Regions from separate parts of the Homo sapiens genome. Here region 1 is linked to region 2. Evidence: fine-mapped expression QTL. Tissue or cell type: whole blood. Region 2 holds a variant in brackets; the other region holds the start of a gene. All regions are shown on one strand. Distances are from middle to middle.

Region 1 (2,757 bases), 100 kb before region 2:
TACCAGAACAATTTCTTCTGCTTATTAGTTCAATTACGTTCAGTACCTGGGAAACAGCTGTAACTTTCAACATACTTAGTGACAGTCAGAACCCTAACTCTCATGCTAGTAAATAGACGCCCCTTATCAGAAATGCAAGTGTAGTATTTTAAAGTGTGCATATGTATATATCTGTGTACATACATATTCCCATAGTCTTTCCAAATTTTTTATAATTAAAATTATATATTCTATATTGGTTTCAACATATGTAGTAAACATCAGCACTACTGGTTGGCTCTAATAGGAGCCCTAGGTCTTTAGGAATAAATCTAGGAAACTCGAGTTTTTCAGAAAGTCAACCGCTTCTCGCCAAACCCAATGATTCAGTCTGAAATTTAGGACATGTTTTAGAAAGACTTGAGCATTGCTAGCAGGCTTCACGAAAAGACCAGAGGCAGAAACACTTTCTCCCCAAAGTCTCCAAGCCAAAAACGAATTCTTCACGCTAACACTGTCTTCCTCAGGTGTTTAGTAAAATGTACCGCTGCTCTTCTTGACTACTCAGAAGACATAAAAGGTACAGCCACGGCTTGGAGGCTAGCCCGCCCTCCGGACCGCAGCAGGTGCGAACGCCAGCCCTGCGGAAGGCTCCCGGGTGAGAGCGCAGGCGGCGGAAGAGCGCAGGCGGCGAGCACGCCTCCCTGGAGCGCCTCCCGCCCGAAACGCACCAGGGGAGTGGGAAAGTGGCAGAGACCCCCGTGGGAAAGAGGGGGCGTGGGGGTGCTCGGAGCGCGCAGCGGCAGCAGGACTCGAGTCCCGCGCTCGGCGAGACACTGACGCCGCCGCGGGACCCCGGACACCCCGACTCGCGGCCACTTACCTTCCTCGTAGCCCCACTCCACACCCTCCTCTTCTTCCTCCTCATCCTCTTCCTTCTCGGGGAAGGCGACGGTATCTTCGATGAAGCTCAGGTCCGCCATGGGAAGGCCGCGGGGCCCCTCGGCGCTCTCGGCAGCAGTGCCTGCGCCTTCGCTGGGCGCGGGGCTGGAGCCGGAGCGGAGCGCGCGTGGGGGAGTGTGAGCACGCGTGAGCGGCAGTGTGAGTGCGAGAGCGCCTCCGGGTGTGAACCGCAGTGTGAGTGCAAGCAGGCGTGCGTTCGGACCGAGTGTTCCAGAGACCCGCGTGGGAAGCGCGTCCGGAGGCCCCAGCAGAGCGAGGGAGCGGCTGTGGCCTGGGGAGCGAGCGCCTGGCGAATTTTATACCCGACCGGGGCGTGTCTGGTACGCGAGGATCCGCCCCCTTCTCTCTCTGGCCGTTGGGGCCAGGGGAGCCGACAGTTAGAATGCGCCTCGGGGCGACTAGTCCCAAGTCACGGAAACCTCGGCGCATCCCCGCCCGCCCTTCCCCCGGGGTCGCCCCCGCCGCCTCCTGGCGCTTCCTCGCTGCGGCGACTCCTGCTTGGCCGCCCGAGCCTTCCTTCCAGAAGCCCGCAAGTCTCCCAAGGTCACTCGGGACCCCTGTGTGCCTGGCCTAGCCCAGAGGCTGCTCACCTATTCATTTTCATCCGTACTCCAGGAAATACCAAAAAGAAGGGGTCCTGGAGGAGAGAGATGGGCTGCCGTGGGTAGGAGAAAGGAGAGGGCTAGGAGACCCCGTAACACAATAAAAAGAGACTCTCCAGCGGAATCTTCTTAGTATCTTCTGAGTATTTACTTTTTAAATCGTCCGTTCAGCGCAGTGGAAACGAGTTTGGAAATTTTTCCAAGAAAGTTCTATTAATTCCTAAAAACGTTTAAGAAAAGAAAATGGTTGTTATCTAGAGAAGTAGCTATGATTTAGGGTTGTGTTTTTTTTTTTTTTTTTTCCAGAAAAGGGTATTGTTTCAAAGCAGGGCTAGCAGAAGGCAGTAGACAGAGGGTGTTCGCTGTCAGAGTCTGGGGCGCTGCTGCAGGCTCACCTGGCTGTGTACACAGCTCCCATTCACCTAGTGAAATCGTGTAAATAATGAAGTGCACACATTGCATAACAAACAGGAACTCTTCTGATCCAAAGAGGTGGCATTGTTACCCTTAAACGTGCTTCTCAGTCTAGTGTTAACGACTTCAGCCCTCTGTTCCTGTGCCTTTTAAAAGCCCTGGTCAGTAACCCCTAAGTAGGTTAACTCCACATTTTTAGAAGATATATGTGCACAATAAACTCGAGTTAGGACCTTAAGTACAATTTGTTTTTTATATGCTCTGGTCATTCATGAAGATATCTATTTGCACTTTGAATAACCTGTTCCTAAATCACACCAGCCTTATGAATGCATAATTCCTCAAATAAGGATGGAAATGATCCGTTTGGGAATGTTTAGTTTCAGTGCTCATATCCTTTACTGCCTGCTAAGCACCTCCACTTTTTAAAAAGACACTTCATAGCTTTTAAAAAAAAAAAATTACAAACTGCTCCAGAAAGTACACTGAGATGGAAAGAAGTGGGGGGAACCCTCAACTCGCTCAATTCTGCCACTTTCTGGAAGGTTTAACCAAATATATGGAAAACTACTGGCCAACATTAGCTTGGAGGATAACCGGTGGATTTTAAGCATTCATATAATTTCTCTTTTCCTTAACTGTGCAGAGGACTGAAACAGTTTGAGAAACTAAATTCATTTTTCACTCACTGCATTCTGGGTGTTCTTTAGTGGACGGTCGTTTGCATCTTTGCAAGCCTGGGACTGGCAGAAGCAGAAGCCTACCCCAAAGCCAGAGCTATTAAAAATAATAAGCACTA
Region 2 (2,757 bases):
GATCTTTTTCTTTCTTCTTTTTTTTTTTTTTTTTTTTTTTTGAGACTGAGTCTTGCTCTGTTGCCCAGGCTGGAGTGCAGTGGCGTGATCTCCACTCACTGCAAGCACCACCTCCCGGGTTCACTCCATTCTCCTGCCTCAGCCTCCCGAGTAGCTGGGACTATAGGCGCCTGCCACCATGCCTAGCTAATTTTTTTTTTTTTTGCGTTTTCAGTAGAGACAGGGTTTCACCGTGTTAGCCAGGATGGTCTCGATCTCCTGACCTCGTGATCCGCCCACCTCAGCCTCGCACAGTGCTGGGATTACAGGCGTGAGCCACCACGCCCAACCTCTTTCTTCTTTTCTCCCCACCTTACCTTATAACTTCCAGCACTACTTTAAGTACCTTGACTTACTTTTTCTTGTCAGTTTTGATAACACTTTCTTTTTGTGTGTGTATACATAATCAAGTCTTCTTTCCCTTGTTATTTGATCTGAAAATTTGAAAATCAGCAAACAGTATTTATGTTATTATGACTATGTAATATTATTGTCTGTACAGCCAAGTATTATTATTACATTCCAAATTTTCGTGTTCTTTAAGAGTTTCTCCTCCTCCTCCTCCTCTCCCTTTTCCTATTTCTCCTCTTTCTTCTGCTTCAGTTGCTTCTTTGCATTGCTTGCCTTTATCAAATCTTTACTTTTCCAGTTTCTCAAAGATCCCACAAATCGTCAGCCTCCCATTTTTCCAGATCTTTCCCTCTTTGTGCCTCCATCTAGACTGAGGGTCTGCAGATATGCTCCTTAGCTATGATGCGGGAACCTTATTTTGTTATTCCTCTGAGATGGACCCCATGCCTTCTTTCTTGATTTACTCCCTTCTTTAGCTGGACTATGTCCTCCAAGTAACTCCCTAAGAAACTATATGGAACAAGTAAACCTAAATCCTACATACCTGAAGAGCTGTTCATTCTACCCTCATTCTTGATTGAGAGCTTTGCTGAGTATATAATGTGAGATTGAAAATAGTTTTACCTTGTAACTTAGAATGTGCATTCCAGCTGGGTGCAGTGGCTCACGCCTGTAATCCCAGCAGCTTGGGAGGCCAAGGCAGGAGGATCGCTTGAGGCCAGGAGTTCAAGAACTGCTTGTGCCACGCCCAGGAACTCAAAGCTGCAGTGAGGTAAGATCGCATCACTACACTCCGGCCTGGGCAACACGGGGCAGCTCTGTCTCTTAAAAAAGAAAAGAAGAGGAAGTTCATACCAGTATTT[C/G]TTAGAAATCCAGGGTTGCTGAGGGGAAGTTCAAAAGATGGTCTGATTTTTGTTCTTTTATAAGTGACCTTGTTTTTTTGCTTATTTGTTTTCTTTATCTCTGGAAATTTCTTGTTCTCTTTTAATATTTTTCTGGAAACTTTACAGTGGTAAGTTGAAATGAGTCTATTATCTATTCATTGTTCTGGGAAACTAGTGTCATTCAGCTGTAGGAAAACCTATTTTGTTATTTCTCGAAATATTTCCTCCCACCCATTTTTTCTGTACTGTCTTCCGAGATTCCTATTATAGGTTGCACATTCCTAAAATCCTGAAAATCTGAAATCCAAAATGCTCTAAAATCTGAAACTTTTTGAATGCCAACATGATGCCACTAGTGGAAAGCTGAAAGTTTCACACCTGACCTCATGTGATGAGTCGCAGTAGAAACACAGGCACGTAACACAAAGTTTATTCAGCATTTCCAGAGGGAAAAAGATCTTCCCAGCTCCCTTTAGTGTCATTATCTTTTCCGCACACTCCCAGAATCCCCCATGCAAGCACGCCCACAGGAAGATAAAGCCCCACCTGCCAGTGGTTCACCACCAAAATACAATTGCGTTTGTTTTTAAATGTGCCAATTTTAGTTGCTATTTTAATTACAAAACAAACATGTTATATACCCGTAAAATACAAAGGCAAAAAATAAAAGACAAATCGCTTAAAAATACTGTCAAATCAGTTGTTGGTGATGAGCTAGAAAAATTGGTATGGGAGAAGTTTTAAAAATCTAAACAGATTCTGCACTCGGCCAGGCGCAGTGGCTCACACCTGTAATCCCAGCACTTTGGGAGGCCGAGGCGGGTGGATCACGAGGTCAGGAAATCGAGACCAGCCTGGCTAACATGGTGAAACTCCGTCTCTACTAAAAATACAAAAAATGAGCCTGGCGTGGTGGCGGGTGCCTGTAGTCCCAGATACTTGGGAGGCTGAGGCAGGAGAATGGCGTGAACCTGGGAGGTGGAGCTTGCAGTTAGTCGAGATCTCACCACTGCACTCCAGTCTGGGTGACAGAGCAAGACTCCGTCTCAAAAAAAAAAAAAAAAAAAAAAAGATTCTGCCCTCAAATTCCATTGCAGGTGTGCTTATATCCCAGACATTTTAGAAATTATAAATGAGGCATTATAGATGTATTTTATGCAAAAAAAAAAACTACAGAACTTCCAATCAATGGACTCATAATCAATGAACTCATAATCAAAGAAGAGCTCTGGACTTATATCAAATCACTGACTAATGAAGATAGTGTTATATATGTGGGAATGAAGTAAAACTTTGTGAAGTGATAGTTAATTAAAATATGGCAAGCATTTATTACAGTACCTGACACACCAACATTACATAAATAGTGGGCATTATTGTTAGTTAAAGTGTTTTTTTTTGTTTTTTTTTGAGAAAGAGTCTTGCTCTGTCACCCAGGCTGGAGTGCAGTGGCATGATCACCGGTCACTTCAGCTCAACCTCC

What was found. PIP is the estimated chance that this variant, and not a neighbour inherited with it, causes the effect.
Region 1: it holds the start of CA8, and the variant in region 2 is fine-mapped to the expression of CA8 in whole blood (TOPMed, PIP above 0.99).

The regions. Positions count from the first base shown.
Region 1 is chr8:60,280,186-60,282,942 of GRCh38, forward strand. CA8 (carbonic anhydrase 8) reads right to left here and starts at 1,215. Exons shown (of 9, transcript NM_004056.6): 1 at 863-1,215. The coding sequence starts at 962. RefSeq lists an enhancer at 691-1,197 and a silencer at 1,190-1,398.
Region 2 is chr8:60,384,193-60,386,949 of GRCh38, forward strand. No RefSeq gene overlaps it. Among named protein-coding and RNA genes, the nearest start is that of LINC01301, 28 kb to the right of the region's middle. The variant C/G (reference allele first, on the strand shown) is at 1,254.